Linked DNA regions of Homo sapiens: region 1 is linked to region 2. The links come from fine-mapping of genetic effects on gene expression. Tissue or cell type: putamen. Region 2 holds a variant in brackets; the other region holds the start of a gene. All regions are shown on one strand. Distances are from middle to middle. Region 1 holds the start of EYA4-AS2 (EYA4 antisense RNA 2). Region 2 overlaps TARID (TCF21 antisense RNA inducing promoter demethylation).

Evidence for each region. PIP is the estimated chance that this variant, and not a neighbour inherited with it, causes the effect.
Region 1: it holds the start of EYA4-AS2, and the variant in region 2 is fine-mapped to the expression of EYA4-AS2 in putamen (GTEx, PIP above 0.99).

Annotation. Positions count from the first base shown.
Region 1 is chr6:133,452,266-133,461,093 of GRCh38, reverse strand. EYA4-AS2 (EYA4 antisense RNA 2) reads left to right here and starts at 4,489. Exons shown (of 3, transcript NR_199014.1): 1 at 4,489-4,560; 2 at 7,432-7,486; 3 at 8,048-8,409. It overlaps EYA4 (EYA transcriptional coactivator and phosphatase 4), which reads right to left. Exons shown (of 20, transcript NM_004100.5): 6 at 4,446-4,538.
Region 2 is chr6:133,532,933-133,541,760 of GRCh38, reverse strand. TARID (TCF21 antisense RNA inducing promoter demethylation) reads left to right here. Exons shown (of 9, transcript NR_109982.1): 6 at 4,403-5,981. Among named protein-coding and RNA genes, the nearest start is that of EYA4-AS2, 81 kb to the right of the region's middle. The variant A/G (reference allele first, on the strand shown) is at 4,489.

The DNA.
Region 1 (8,828 bases), 81 kb after region 2:
AGTGCACCAAAGGTTGCTTCATAAATACATTTCACTAGAGTGTACATAACCAATTTGAAGAAATTACCATGTTAAATACATGTTTCCAGAAATTCATTTTCTAAAAGGAAACAGCTGCCTAAACACTTTCTCCTAATTAAACTGCTTTGAGTTTTGTGCAAAAAGCATGAAATAAACATTTGTCTCACAAATCATTCCCTCTGTCATTCTTCCAGTTTCTCAAATCATTAGCATGCTCTTATATATTAATATGCTATGAATAAATATCTTTGATTATAGGGTAATTAAGCTTTCAAAATATAAAAGTAAATTTTTAAAATTTGCAAACTTTACATTTTAAAATACCAAATATGATGGCAATATATACATATTGCTCTTCCTCCATATCTGTTCTAATTCAAATACAATACAAAATAAGACTGTGATGTTCCAAACTTCATTTTCTAATGGTAAAATACTATTTTATTCTATTTCCTCTCATTTTACCCATCAGATGAACAATTAAAAAATGCAGTCTAAAATATTCCAGTAATAATTAAAGAAAGTGCAGGTGATTTCTTTAAAACATAATCACAAAATGCAGTAGCAATTACATTTACAAATATACTTTGAACTATTAGAGATAATACTTTTCTGAGAAGAACTTAAAGGTGAAAGTGAGGTCCTATTAACAGTTCATCCAAACATGGAGCCCCAAACTGGAATATATCCAATAGCTTGGAAGTTTCTCTTTCCTTTAACTATCTGCCTTGACTAAGACAGATGTTTTGCAAATATATGGACTCTAAAGTGTGAGCCAGTTCCCTTAGAGCCAATCCACACTGAGCGAGCACACAGAGTGTCTTTATTAGGCCATCTGCTGTTCATTCACTTTTCAAAAAGATTAAAGTAGTACACAATGCAGTGCTGGAATTAGTTTAGTCTAATCAATCATAGTTATACTTCAAAGTACTATGTCCTTTCTGAGTTGTTCATAATAATTCTGGAGCGAAACTTTTAGAATTGTAAAAGTGACAAATAGGTTTAGGTTGCTAACTATTTTATGAAACATGATATATTTCTATATATATCACAAGAACCCTTGTGATCTGCTTCACAAACATGCATCATTTAATGTGTTTAAAATGCTATTTTGCCTATAAGCTCTGAATATGGAAAGAATATTTTCATTTTCATAGCGATAATGAAGTAAGTATATTTTTAAGAATATTATCAGTCAATTTTGAAAATCATCAAATTTGACTAAAGGTGTTACTTCTAAATATTTTCAGCAACCAGAATTTAACTGAATTTGATACGTATCGTTGAAAATAAATTGACCAATAAACTATTACTTTTCTACATATTTATCAAAACTTAAAGAACGTTTTAAATTTTCAAATCAACTTAATGAAAACAGACTCTTTGTTCTACTACACAATGGACATTAAATGTGCACTTCATAATAGTAGTGTTATTCCAAAGATATTCATTCTAATTTATCGATTAACAATACCAAATACTCTAACAGAAATATAGTTAAATGACGCTTGATTAAATATTCTTTCGTCTCTTCTTTACAGAATTTCTCCTTGGTACACTCAAGACTTGGGCTATACTCATCAGTTATTATCAATATTGTGAAATAGAAGGCTTTTCCAAAGAGACGCTGAATCATGAAGATAAATATTCATTATAGTAACCTTTTATAAATAAGACATAGACCAAAATTACACATTTCAGAAAAAACTCATATACATGAACTCAATTCTGAATATATAGGATGTTTCTTCTAATGATAAATCTAAACATCATTAGAATAATGTACTCACAACACTATAAAGCCTCAACTAACCTTTACAAATTTCTATTAACGTCTATATGTTCATTTTCTAAATAGAACAGAAAACCTTTGGCTCAGAAAACTACGATGTTCACGTAGGAAAGTTTATGCTTCTTTACTAAAATATATACATTTTGTTCTAATTCAGAAATTTGCAGATAACTGAAAAGAACAACAAAATTGGATTAAAGTGAGTGGAAATTTTGCAGATCAAAGTAAAGACTGCTCCCACAAAGGGCAGCCTCATTTCCAGAATGGTTTCTGGAATATCTTGTACAAACTTGAAAGAATTTCGTTTTATTCCCCACTGTCATCTGATTAATCATAAACATTACCCAAAACACTCATTACATTCCATCATTTCTGCATACAACAGTAAGCAAAACTGCTTGTTTTCAAAATGCCCTGAAAATTAATTTAAATACATGTTTAATATCTATTGTCAGTTTCTCTGATGGTGTCAAAGCAATTTTAAGGTTTCATTCTCATTATCGTGCCATCTTAGATTGGTGACTCTCAATGGGATGAGAAGTGGGTGGGGGTGAGAATTTTGCCTGCCAGGGGACACTTAAACAGTCTGGATACATTTTTGGTTGTCTTTAGTAAGACATCTTTGGTTGCTTCTTTAGTAAAGAAGCATCTGGGGGAGTGCTGCTGGCATTCTGGGATAGATGCAGCCAAACATCTTACAGTGCAGAGGATAGCTTTCCCACACTAAAGAATTAGCCCAAGTCTTTAACAGTGCTGATGTTGATAATCCCTGCCCTGGATCACTGCTGTGGAATAAAACTTTCCACAGTGTTGGAAATGTTCTGTATCTGAGCTGTCCAATATGGTAGCTGCTAACCACATGCAGCTGTTAAACACTTGAAATGTGTTTAAACTTGAAAATTCAGTTAAATTTTGGTTGCTGAAAATATTGAGAACTTAACGCCTCTAGTCGTACTTGATGATTTTCAAAATCAATTAATAAAAATATACTTACTGCAATATTGCTGTGAAAATGAAAATAAAAAACAAAATTTTTAATTTTATCAAATTTTAATAACCACATATGACTGGTGGCTACCTTACTGGACAGCACGTCCCTAGATACTTCTTTAAAAATTTGCGAAAATATCTACAAAGACAATATGAGTGAATTTCAGACAGGATGATTGTTCATGCCTATTTCTTTTTCCATCTATTTTCTGATGGGGCATTACAGAAAGGACCCAGGGACTGATCATAAGGACATGGTTTTAGATTTGTTTATACCACTGACCAGCTGTGAGGCCTTGACTGTATGGCCTTAACCACTTTTAACTTCTCTTGTCTACAAAACGGATCAGAGAGCTCTGAAATTCCTTCTGGAGCTAACACTTTATAGTTTTGTCATTCAGCTTTCAATTAACTTGTAGTATACTACTGAAGTAGGTCAGCAATAAGTTAATAACTCCATTCCTTTCCTTAACAATTTGTTCATATAGATTTATTTTGCAGAAAGTTTACAAAAGCTATGGTAAGTGTGCAATACAGAATACTGAACTGGTAACTATCTCCTGAGAGGCAGGTAAACTGCTAGAAAAGATGTGGATTAGTACATATGAGTCTCTGTGCAAAGTTTATGTACTATTATTTCTTTCTTGGAGTACTAATATTTATGTAAATATATGGCAACTGCTTCTAATCGGTGTGAACTAGTGAAATTAGATCATCTGTAAAAATCAAATATATGCTATAATGACATAATACTCTAAGACATATCTCAACTATTTTTACACAAAACATACTGACAAAAAAATCCTTATAACATGAGCACATGGATAAATGTAAAATGTATTAAAGTAGAATAACAGAACCGAGATTCAATTACCACAAATACTTTCCTAGGTTTAATGTTCTTCTTTCTGATGTACCCGATCCTCCTCAGGTTAGAAAAATCCTTTCACCAGATAAAAAGCCGAAGAAATATTGTAACTTAAAAAAATTTAATTAAGTCTACTTAATTCATGCCCTTTGTGCCCAGCTGGGAGTTATCAGGTATTTATATTTTAAAGGGATTGATGTTTAAAGACATGCTATTGTTCTCTTTGAAGCATTCGAGCGCTCTCAGAGGCTGGGTTCTAATGCAACCAGCATGTGCTCTCCTGCAGCCCATTAACCTTTAATACTTGTCACTCAGCTGCTTACACAGGAGGAGTTTTTTAAACCCAGAGAGGAAACAAGGTTATTTAGAAGGAATCAAATGGATAGTTTTACATCTCGAATGTTAAACAGAAGGCAGTTTTTATGTAATTCAAATGGGTAAGTTGAAGAAGCAAGGTCAGCTACTACAACTTAATTATTAAATTAATTAAACATCGTATAAAATAATTTTGAAGGAAGTTAAGTTTACTTATCCATAATAAGAAAGTCATGGGACTTTTGCTGTCAACTAAAATATCAAGCGAAATTATTCTAAATATAATTTATAACAATGCATACTGCTATGACTATGAGTTCTCAAAAAATAAGAATTTGTTTCTAACTTTATAAGGATCAAAGTTCTAAGAGCTTGGATGCTTATGTTGCTTATTCCCGAGGAGGAGGATGTGGATGCACCCCCATGTGTACGTAAGGACACACGAGCTAAAGGCTTTACCTGACCCAGTAAAAGTGTCAAGCGCTCCATCTCCAGTCGTGGCTGTGGTTTCACTGCTGTTCAAGGGCTCTGTTTTGACTGCAAGAAGAGACACTACGTAGAAGAATAAGTACATGTGAGTTTTACTTCTAAATTTATGTCAAAGACTCTGTCCGTTCTACTAGTGATATTTCTAGCTACCATGGGCATGCAAGAGAAAACCTGAGAAGTTGATGAAGAGAGTTTGTTAATTTAGCTTCTAAACGGGCATGCATTTAGAGGATTTAATCTAAAATCCTCTGGCCAAGCTAGTTCTCTCAAATCCAGCTTTTAAAGGCAGTCAGCCTTAAAAAGTGAAACAGCAGTACACATATTTGTATTTTTAATTCACCTAAACACACTCTCATATAGTCAATAGGAAAGAAGGAATCATCATCAGTCTTCAGCACATTTAATTAAAATTATACCAAAGAAATTTACTAGCTTATATTTTATTTTTCCCAGGAAGATATTTTTTAAGTTTGCATAATAATACAATGGAGACATATAAAAGTATAGAAACCATGGGCTCATTCACACAATGAATGAAAAATGAAGCACTCAATGAAGCTCTAAAAAAGACTCACGAGCTATAAGGTGTTGGGCTTCATACTTTAATGGCATAACAATTTTTAATATGTTTAGAGATAAGCGTAGAAAAAGAGATGACTTCTACAGCAGCAAGTACACCTTTTGAAAACTCATTTTAATATGTTATTTCTACGTGGTAATGGTGTATTTTGGCAAAATCTTTGCTTGGTAACAAAGTGGCCTAGTACACATTATTATCATTATTAGATGCAACAAGGGTGATGGGGCGTGAGAATAAAGTTTTACCCATTTGGTCACACCATATTTTCCCTTTGTTGGCAAGGCTTTACTACATATATCATAGCAGCAAGGAAATAAACTAAGCTATTTTCTACTTAACACCTCTTGTGTTTCCTGGTCATAAGTGAAATGAATGATACAGTTAAATAACTTAGAAGCAAGCAGAAAATTATAAAGAAGAAAGCTGAAGACTAGCCAAAGGACAAAAAAGAACAGTCAGTCATAGGGTACCCACCAATCACACAAGTCAGTAATGTTATTCTGTTAGAAAAGAAATTAATTGATAGAAAACCATGCGGTAATGATTATGCTCTTTTCCACATGAACAGAATTAACCAGACCTTCAGTGAGCTCTGGGTTAATTTAGTATCCATTATTTATTAATGACATGATCAGCTGGAAGATTCAGAGGAGAAATGTAAATGTTGGAAACAGAAAGTAAAGAAACTTGGATTACTTTTCTTAGCAAAAAAGCAAACTCAAGTTTGACTTATCTTTCAAGAGCAACAATGATCTGAAGAGTAGTCTAATTATTTATATAATGATAAATAATGAATTGGTGGTTATTACTTTTCAGTAGTAATTTGCACAGTAATCCCTATTATGGTTATACCTTATCAATAACTAAACCTATCATTATAAAATCATTTTATCACCTTTATATTTACTACTATAAAACTAATACTTATTGAGAGCTTGCTACGTGCTAGATGATGTACATTTAGCTAATCCTTAAAACAACTCTAATTAATACAAATCACTATAACCATTTTATAGACAAGGAAACTGAAGTTCAGGGGGGCTGAAAAGCCTGCATAAGTTCCAGTGCAGGAGACGGTAGAGCTAAGATTTGAACTCAGGTTTTTAGCTCTAGTATGCAGGATCTTTCCACCGTATCAGGCTGCCTTCAGGTACGAAAATAGCTTATGCTCATGACAGTGTCTCTTCTCAAAGGCCCAAAGCATGATGAGAATGCAATTATCTCCTAGATAGAATAATTAAAAATACTTCACTGAAAATAAAAACTGCAAAATACTGGAATAGGATACTAAGGCATGTTTCCCATTTCTTCCTCATGGGATATTTTAAAAGACATCAAGAAGTAGCAAATTTGAAATTAGGTAACAGTAACAGCACACCCTTAAAATGAACTTGATACATTCCAGGCACTTCTCTTGTCCTTTACACCTACTGATTTACTCCTCTCAACAGTCAGTAGATAATATCATCATCTTTATTTTTCAGATAAGGAAACTGAGGCACAAAAAGGTTAAATAACGTCCCCAGTCACAAAGCTTGTAAGAGCTAGAATTTGAGACCAAGTAGTGTGTGTTCAGAATCCAAACTCTTAAACCATACTGCCTCTCAGGCAGCACTAGCTAATCAAGAATTCCTTTTGTCTGTATGAAGATAATGCAGAGTATAATCTAGATGGGTATCAAGGCTACTCCATTTCACGCAATGTTTACAATTGAGTTCTAACATTTATGACAAAAAGTCATGGCCCAAAGCCTTCAGCAAAACTAAGAAACAGTTTATCAGAGCTTCTGACTTCTACTTGCAGCTAAATTCCTATTTATGCATATCTATATCTACGAACAATATTTGCAAAAGTAGCTTTATTATACTAATTGTAATATAGATTTTACTTGCGAATGGAGGTGGCAGAATGTGAGCTGTGTCTAACGAAACTGGTCTAGAAGCCAGACATGAAGATTAGTTTTGTTACTTTGAATTTCAACTTTGAGACCCAATTTCAAAAGCTTAGTATTGATTTTGATTATAATCTCTTCAATTTGAAAGTTTGGGGAGGTCAAAAGGAGAAAGAAGAAGGAGAGAGTGAGTTTTTGGTCTAATTCATTATACTGGAAACATCTCTCATTAAAATTTTAAAGGTTTGCTTTTAGTCAAAGATAGACAAAGGAAGTTCATTTTACTGAGAAAAGCCATCCCTGGGAAAGTATATGAAGAGAGGAGTAACAAGCAAGATGTGTTAGCTTTACTAAAATGCCTGAATTTTAAAGTAATGGATGCTAACATTTGAGGGGAAGTGGTACATGTTAATGTAAAATTGTTTTTCCTATGCAAGGGTAGAACAAAATGGAAAAGTAGAAATAAAACATTTATTCTGTCACAGAAAATAAGCTGCATTCATACTAAGTGAGCATCAACAAGCACCTCTTGATCTCTAAGTAAGTCCCAAAGTTATTTTGGTTTGATTTTTCTAAATAAAAAGCAGTAATATTAGGTAATAATAAACAACTATTTTTTCAGCAGTAGAAAGCTCAAATAGAGAAGTGAATAGACACTCCTTATATTATTAGCTGATTTATTAAGACATGTTAGAATACGAAGAAGTATTATCTTGATATTTATATAACAGTTAACTAGTATAAAGTAAACATTATATAATAATTATAGATAAAGCTTGGAAAACAACGTTATTTTCACTGAAGCTAGAAATATATTTGAAATGTATTCTTTTTTCTTTTATCTTGCTTTTGTTTCTGCACTTTAAATTACACCTACTATATACTTTTCTAGTGGCAGGAAACTTTCATTAAATATATGCAAGACACTATTGGAAAAATGTTCATTAGTAAGACAAATCTAGTCTTATTACTACTAACTTGTAAAAATCCTTATTCCAAATAATTATCAGTGCCTATTCCTTGACTGTTCAAATGTATGTTAAGCTATATTTTGTCTTTCTTAAATTAACATGAAGTTTAAATGGGGCTTTTAATTTTCAGGACAGCAAACCAAAATCATTACATGCAATAAAATGGAAGCAAAATCCTTTTATAGAAGACAAGCACCGTATTTCTCAACCAAATGCAAGCTTACACACCAAATGTTTTGATTTCAAAAGAAACAATATTTTAATGTCCTAGGTTGAAGAGTTTTGTGGGATTATTATTCTGTATCTTCAAAGTAAGTGAGTCAGAGCTCGTTTTGCTAAAAGTGGCATAAAATTACTTTCTATACCACTTTGTCGAGAACCGTTAAGAAATCCTTGTACTGTCAGGTCCCCCTCCCCACTAGTTAGCTACTTGCAATTTGGATGTTTCTGATAGAGTCAAATGGTAAAAATAAATAAACATACATGATTGGCTTTTCCATTTTTTTAGCTTTAAAAATAATTCTTATCTATAGACTAAATCAAGGTCATACATAATTATTGTCAGGTACCAGTAATGGCTACTAAATCACAGATTTCCTGTCTTCACATCCCAACCTTCATCCCTACTGCCATACACTTATTTTTAAAGCAGTCTTACTCTTGTCCCCTTAAATTGTCTTTAGAAGTTAAGTATAACATTAATGTCGATTAATTACTTTTAGAGAAAGTCTGTTTTATTATCATAACTCAAAGTTCATATTCATATGTTGCAATTCAGGCTTCATCCTCGAAAGGTAACCCACATAATTTACATTTACATTTCATCTTCATAAATCAGTGTAGTTTAAACATAGATTAAGGTGTGTGTGCACCAGTTTAAGGTGTCCATTTAAAAAACTACATATATGTAA
Region 2 (8,828 bases):
ACTTGAGGTGACTGCAGTCCTGGCTGATACCTTGATTCTAATCTTCTAAGAGACCCTGAGCCAGAACTGTACAGCTAAGCTGCTTCCAGCTCCCTGACCCTCTAACGCTATGTGAGATAATATATGTTTGATGTTTTAAGCTGCTACATTTTGGAGAAATTCATTATGCGGCAATAGAGAACTAACACACAAGGAGACAAGTAATCCTCCAAGAGGTTTTCTGATAACAGTTGCGTAGAAGAAAACTTCAGATGTCTAAAATCACACTATTTAGCCCACTGCTTGCCTCAGCTCCTGAGATGATGATGGACAAAGACCTTGTCTTAAGGTGGAATACTGGGGTCTAAGCCTTGCTTCTAATGTATCAACTATGGAGAGAAAATCGACTTAGGGATCTTTTTTACACCATCTAGCAACTGGGGAGCAAGCATTCCCTCTTAAAGCCTTGACTCTCCCCAAGGCGCTGGTGGGTGGTTATTTATGGTTATTCTGAGTTATTACTGCATAACATCCACACAGGCAGTTAGCACAGTATTTATTGAGCAGCCTTTAATGATGAATAGAGTGAGAAACACCAGGCAAAGAATATGGTAATAACAGTACATAAATTTTATTTTCATTTAGCATGAAAACACCTGATTTCCTTCAACACTGTAAACATGTCACATTATTACACAGTGAAAGGCTGATGAATTTAAACATTCATGTGTACATTGTTTTGAATGGAAAATGTACTTTCATTCCACTTGCCTCCACCATTACAGATCATTTTGTTTTATTTATTTCACTTTAGCTTGTTTTAATTAAAAAAACAAAATCCGAGGAGAGAAAGTAACTAGAAGGTTTTCTCAGGATGGGATTGGTTATTTTCAAGACATTTGACTTCTTATTCTCCTCAGAAACAGAGAGACAGCCTCAGAATAGAACATTTTATGGTCAGAGTTGGCAAGTACCTCACGGTTTGTAGTTAATAAACATGATTAAACTAAATGTTCAGAAGGAAATTTTGCTAGACCATTTTTTTAAAAAAACAAAACACAATGAATGCACTCATTAATTATGTACAATTTTGTCATTGGGTAAAGAAAGAAATTTCAGGCTAGGAAGGCAACTTATTCCTAGACATAACGTTAAATAAATACGTGCCTTCAAACTTGAATTATTGCCCTGTAAAAAGACAGACAAATGTCTCAGCAACAGCTTCATTACTGTCAAGCTCATGATTTGTTGTTCCATTGACATGATGATGTGCTTTCTAGCACTAAGGTCTTGTCTGTTGTTGCAATAGAAACTCTTATTTTTAGAATTTATCATTTAGTTATTTAAAAAAAAGTTATAGTTGATCAAAAAGCATGGTAAATAAGCTCTCAGTATGCGTGCCAGTATGGGTGTATTGGAGTTACATTAGAAATGGGAGAAAAGGAACACCTATACACTCCTAACTACTACGCTAGTCCTGTTAAGCAGAATGTTGGAGGCTTAACGTGATTCAGCAGTGCCCTTTCTATTTAACACATTGCTTGCCTATGGGTGGAACTGTCATAGGTCAGGGTTATAGGTCACACATTTTTCCAAAGAAGAAAAATTAAGGAGTGGTCATAGGATGTGGCATCCTATTCACTAAGTGAGTTCTAAATTGCATTTCACAGATAATTTGATGTGGTTATGGGATGGCGCTGGAATGCAAGAAACAGATGGAGCACTGCAATTCTAGTCCTGGATATCTGTGTTCTTAAGAGGTGTGGCCAAATCGCAGGGTGACACAGAGTGAGGTGCCAGGATTCATCCAAAGCACCACAGTTTAGAGGGGAAAATATTTTAAAGTAACAATGTTAAACTATTGTGAGACATTTGAAGCCCCTTTCCTTATAAATAACTATCCATCTCTTCCTAGTCTCACATGTCTTGGCCACTATATAGCTGGAAAGAGCAGAAGACCTAGGGAATAACACAGTCAGGAGTCCCAAACTCACTTTTTATAATTTGAGTAATCGACTCCAACATCCTTTCTTCTTTAACATCTTTTATTCTAATCAATCCTAAGCACTGACTAGAGGGCATGCTTTGAGCTGCTGGTTCCAAGAATTAACATTTCCAACTGGACATTCATGCATACTCTCTTGACCACAGATGACAGAAACTAAAGTCAATCAAGTTCAAGGAAAAAAGAATAAAAAAGTTTTGGGCTTACAAAACTAGAAATTCCAGGCATGGTCACTGAGTTGAAGTTCTGTCTCCTGACATCCTAAAACCAAATTCTCTGACAGCATCAACAGGGCATGGGTTCTGAGCTGTTTCCCACATGTTGGCTTCATATTCAGATTCTCTCTCAATGTGGTAGGAAAGATGGTTCTGGCATTTTAGGCTGACATAGTCACCAGAGATCCTAATCCCAGAAAGACAGTGCATCTTTCATAATGACTTTGGAGAAAAGTCTTGGGGTGAGTTTTCATAGGCTTAGCTTGGGTCCTGAGCCCATTCTTGGGCAAATAAATATGACAAAGAGGGTGGAATATGTTGATTGGCTAGGGTTCAGCCATATGCCCAGGAGTATGGTGTTCCCTAAAAAGAGGGATGCTTTGTATACACACAAAAGTCAAGTTTACTATGGAAATGGTAACCCAAGGAATGGGAGAAAATGTCTGCAAATCTTGTATCTGATGAGGAGTTAATATCCAGAATATACAATTCAACAACAACAACAAAAACAACCCAATTAAAACATGGGCAAATGATTGAATTGACATTTCTCCAAAGATATACAAATGGCCAATATGCCATAATCATTAGGTAAATGCAAATTAAAACCACAATAAGATATCACCTCACACCCATTAGCATGGTTACTATAAAAAACAAACAGAAAATAACAAGTGTTGGTGAAGATGTGAAGAAAAGGAATTTTTGCACACTATTGTTAGAAATGTAAAGTGGTGTGGCTGCCATAGAAAGTATGGCAAGTATGGTAGTTCCTCAAAAAATTAAACATAGAATTACACAAGATCCAGCAATTCCACTTCTGGGTACATATCCAAAAGAACTTAAAGCAGGGACCCAGTTATTTGTATACCCATGTTCATAGCATCATTATTTGCAAGAGCCAAAAGGTAGAGGCAACCTAAATGCCCATCAATGGAAAAATAGAGAAACAAAATATAGTATACACACATATTATTAGTCAGCCTTAAAAAGGAAGAAAATTCTAACATAGGCTACAAAACAGGAGAACCTGAAAGAAATTTTGTTAAATGAAATCAGCCAGTCACAAAAGGACAAATACTATATGATTCTGTTTATATGAGGTACTTCAAGTAGTCAAATTCGTAGAGACAGAAAGTGGAGGAGTTGCTACAAGGTACTAAGGGGAGAGGAGAATGGGAAGTTATTGTTCAATGGGTAGAGTTTTAGTTTTAGAAGATGAAAAGAGTTTTGTGGATGGATGGTGGTGACAGCAGCACAACAATGTGGATGTACTTAATGCCATTGACTGTACACTTAAAAATGGTTAAGATCGTTACCTTTATCTGTATTTTACCACAATAATAAAAAAAAAAATCATCTCCACTAGGCGGAGGTTGCAGCGAGCTGAGATTGCGCCACTGCACTCCAGTTTGGTGACAGAACAAGACTCCGTCTCAAAAAAAAAAAAAAAAAAAAAATCATCTCCACTATAGAATTTCAGAAAAGAGGTAAACTTGGCTACATAGCTTTTCTCCACTTACCCTTTAGGAACTTGCTTCTGAACATCTTCCATTCAGATACTCCTAAAATCATAAATCATGCTGACTCAATGCTCCATCATGGTTTATTTTTCCTATATTAGGTGGCCCCAGAACCTTCCTAATTCCCCACTCTAATCAGAAGCCTGTCCAGTACCCTTCTTGGAACCATGCTGTAGGTTAGGGAGCCTGTAAGTCTGTTGTATTAAGAGCAGTTGATATGCATGCTTAAAGGTGTTTTAAAAGGGAGGAATCTGCAAAATGTATCTTAACTTAAATGCAAATTAATTGAGCAGCTTTAATTGAATAGTTATCTCTTGGGCCTTCATATAGGACTGGATATAATTCCAATCATCAAGTCAAATAATCAGCTTAGGGTCCTTTTACTGCTTATCTGCAGAACTAACATTCCTACTACATAAAGGCCATTTCTCACATAGGCAACACAGGAGTTACTTGGATGGCAATTATATTCACAGAGAGAAAAAACAGTGACAGTTAACTCCATTGCTTGCAATCTCACCTGCTCTTGATGGCACTTTCCCTCAGATCATACCCCTTCAAGTGCTAAACAACTCAACTGAAGTCAATGGACAGAAGATATGGTGCAATGAGCCTATTTTGCAGTCCAGATAATTTCCACCTAATGGACTAAGTTCCAATTCTGTCTGTGCTACCTACAGGTTGTATAATCTTGGGAGGTCACTTCAACTATACAATTGGACTAAGAACACTGACTCTCGTGGGTGTTATAATTAAATCAGGTAAT[A/G]TATGGTAAGGTAAGCATTGATTAGTCTCTTCATTAGTTGATTAGCCTCTTCAAATGTTAGTTTGATTAGTCTCTTCAAACGTTAGTTTCCTTCCTCTTTTCAGTATGCTCGCTGAAAAGCTGGCTACAGAGCGAGTGACTGAATCAAAGCATCACATCCTACATGCTCCCATTCCCCATCTTGCTACAGTGGTACCAGCTTCTGTGCCCAGAAGATGGTGCTGTGGTTGGATGAATAAAACAATTACAGGGCCTTCAAGGATAAGAAGAAGGAACATGGATAAATATCCCCATTCTGCCTAGACAGAAATAAGAAAAACATTCCCTTTTCTCTTCTTTAAAACGAATTCTTGAGTCATGCATGGCAACAATATGTGTTGCCAAAAGTGGCCAGTTTGTGGTAGTAGGTTTTATTCAGAAAATCAGTGGGTGATGAAAATTTAGAAGATGCACTCATCATTTGTAAAACTGTAGATGAAAGTTTAAAAGATGATGTTATACCACTTTTTCTTCACTGCCCTCATCAGTGGCTCCATCCCACCCTCCTGCTGTTCTCATAACTGATGTAGAAATAATTTCATGAGCCAAACAGGATGGTTTTATACGTGTGTGTTTGGCATTAACTTTATTTCCTATTCACGTACCAGATATTACTGCCCGCTCTTATGAAATAGTTTATTCCACCATAAATGTATGTTTTAATGATCACCACATTTTTTTGGAATACATTAATCTGTCTAAAAATAGGTGATTAAATCATCTGTCATTCTGCTGTGAAGCTCTTTAATGTTTTCTTTGGGAAATAAATTAGAATGCCATATTGGTTTCCAAGCAGACATAAGCTGGCGATGACTTTTTTGTACAAAAGTTACTGATGAAAAGCTCATAGAGGCATTTGGATTTCTTCAGGGTTGTAAATCCAGGTATGTTACTACTTTATCTACTGGAAATTGGGGTAATGCAGGAGATGGGAAAGCATGATGTTAAATCAACTGGTGACCCCAAATAATTTTCCATGGTGTTCATCAGCCATGCACACACTGTATTACTGTCATCATTCCTAGCTTTTCCACTATGCTGTCTCAAGTTTGCACAAATTGTAAGTGATTTTAAATCATTAACTGATGTGACATAATCAAATTACTTAGGGTTTTATTTACTGTGCTCCGAGTAATTCAGTTATGACTTGGCAAGGTATTTAACAGACAATAGTGAAGTTACTACAAATTCAACTTTGCATTGGACAACTCCATTTGAGGATACCACCACCTTCAAATTAACAATTCCAGAAACTGGTCTCAGTATCTCGTTCCAACAACAAGCATCACCCACTACAATAAAAACAGCAAGTAGAATCTTTTTACTTCTTTTGTGTTTCTCATCTCGGCAAACTGCACTACAATCTACCAAACTGCCCGAGCCAGAAACCTAGAGGTCAGGCTGGATTTTCCTGAGGACATGAGGTGAAGAAGCAACCACTGCGAAGTACTAAGGTATTCTTAATACCCTAATTTCTTTGAATCTATGCACTGTCTCATATTCATGCCCATCACCTAATTCAGGAATCTCTCCAGGATCCTGCACCAGCCTCTTAGATCCCTCACTCTCCTCAGCCTGGCCAGAGTAACTATTATAAGATATAAACTGGGACACATAAATCCTCTGTTAACAAACCTTTCATTCAGTACCTACTGATACCCGAGTAAAACTGAAATTGGTTGATGCTGTATTAAAAATCCTCACCAAGTGGCCCTTGTTTTTTTTTCAGTCTCATTTCTTACTATTCCTTTTATTCACTCCATGCTTCAGAAACAAGAATTACTTGCAGTTCCCTGACTACACCATTCTACCCTTCTCCCTCTTACCTGCATTCTCTTACATATTTTCCACTTTGCTTATATGCTTCCAATCCAGTCCTGCAAATGCTCTGGCCTTCTCGGTTTTGTCCTTGGGGCTTCAGCTTTGGACTCATTTTCTCCAAGAATCTTCCCTTTAAGGGCTGGTTAGGTTTCTCTGCAAGTGACTCACCATGCCCCTGTGCTTATCCCCTGCTAACACCCTTCATTCGTTATCTTAAGAGTCACCCCGATTGAAAAGCATAAGAACCTTAAGGGTCAGGACTGTGATGAGTTTAGGGTCAGCAGTACTCTGCTGTGGTTCTGTGGAGGATGATTTACTTGGTGGTCCCTCTACCTTTTCCAGTACACCCTCTTTCAATTCTATGTATTTTCACTGAAGGCTCACCAGAAAACTAAAATGGCAGCATCATAGCAGACATAAGGCACACAAATCTAAGATTTCATGACCACAAAGGACAATGCATTGCCCTTTAGCCATAGAGACACTGTCCCTGCAAGCTGCAATCAAAAGGCATTTTGTTGGGAGGGAAAATAGTCATCTGGCTTATATGGAGTTATATGCATTGTCAGAGATCCTTTAGCATATTACATTTGGAGATCTTTCAAACTGTGTGCTAACACAGACCTGGAAGGTTCTGTGGATGAAGGAAAAGCTAAGGAATAATGGCTACTATTTCCATTGAAAGTCAGAACTTGGGCACAATGAACATTTTCCCCTTGAGGCTCTGAGAGGGCATCTTTGTTGATTGCAGTATATCTCAAGAATTGACTCTGGCACAGTCAAATGTAGACTGCTTTGTGTAGCGACCTGTGTATTAGCACACATGCATACTTTGCCAGAATTACATCCAATAACTTTTAAAGAATATACAAAACCATGCAGAGATGTTAAATAATGGTTATTAGTCTGGGTGCAGTGGCTCACACCTGTAATCTCAGCACTTTCGGAGTCTGAGGCAGGAGGATTGCTTGAGTCCAGGAGTTCGAGGTTACAGTGAGCTATGATGGTGCCACTGCACTTCAGCCTGGGCAACAAAGCAAGACCCTGGATCAAAAAATAAATGGTTCTCTTTTGGTAACTAAACAACATCCGACACTTAAAATTTTTTTTGTTGTTGTTTGTTTCAGGGACTCAGAATCATGAACCACAGTTTGCAGAGAGATCTGATTTTTACATGTTTGTTTGTGTGTGGCTTTAAGTAATGTAAGTCAATTAAGCCTACTAATATTGCATACTTTTTCTTTTATGAAAGGGAAAAAGGGAGTATAAAGGAGGCAATCGCTGATTCATTGTAAACGTTTTTTATCCAGACGATCATTCTCAGGTCACATACAACCTTTCTTCAATTACATCTTTGCTTATGGCCATCCTTGTTCTTTATTTCCATAAATTAGGCCAGCAAATACTCCAGCTAAGGTATAAAAACTTACACAGGTCCTGTGTATGTTTTCTTCTCTCCTTTTCCCTTTCAAATCTAGCTCGATCATTTCTTTTCTTTTCTTTTTTTTTTTGAGACAGAGTCTTGCTCTGTCTTCCAGGCTAGAGTGCAGTGGCGTGATCACAGCTCGCTGCAGCCTCCACCTCCCAGGCTCATGCGATCTTCCCGTCTTGGCACCATGAGTAGCTGGGACTACAGGCACGCACTATCACATCTGGCTATTAGAAAAAGAGAGACAGAGAGAGAGACAGGGTCTCTCTATGTTGCCCAGGCTGGTCCTGAACTCCTGAACTCAAGTGATCCTCCCACCGGCCTCCCAAAGTGCTGGGATTATAGGAATGAGCCATCACACATGGTCCTCTACCACTTTAAATCTCTTCAATTCTAGATCATGCTCATGCAAGTGTTTTCCTGAAGTTTATACATTGTAATGGATGAATCAACAACACAAAAAATAAATGTGTATCATGCTGGATTAATCTAAGAACTAAGTATTTTTTCTTAGTAAAGAAGGAAAATGCTAGAGGTGTTGGGAAGCAGGTGCAATTTCAGAGAGGAGGACCTTTACAGCAAAAAGGTGTTCTTTAAGAACTGAAGAAACCCAGGGCATAGGTGATGCAAAGATCTGGGTGAAAACCTTTTCAAGTGGAAGGAATGGTGAGTGCAAAAGGCCTGCAGCAGGTGGGTGGGTGCAGGTATGTGCCAAACACGGAGGTGCCAGTTTGGCAGTGAGTTGTGAGACAGAGGAAGGGAGAGCTCACCAGGGATGCTGCCTGTGGGCTTACAGGCCATTGCAAAGGTCACTGGTGTTTGTGCCAAGCGAGCTGGTGGTTTCCAAGAAGAGGAGAGAGATATCCTCTGATGCACGGTATGTTTCTGGCTAGTGTGATGAGATGGTGAAAGGGTGTGAGGGCCAGAGAAGGGAGACTAAGCTAGAGGCTGATGTACTTATCTATGTGAGAAAGGATGCTGGTTTCAGCTGGGGTGGTAGTCGTGGGAGAGGTGAGAAGAGGCCGGCGCAGAAGCACAAGCTCAGATTTGG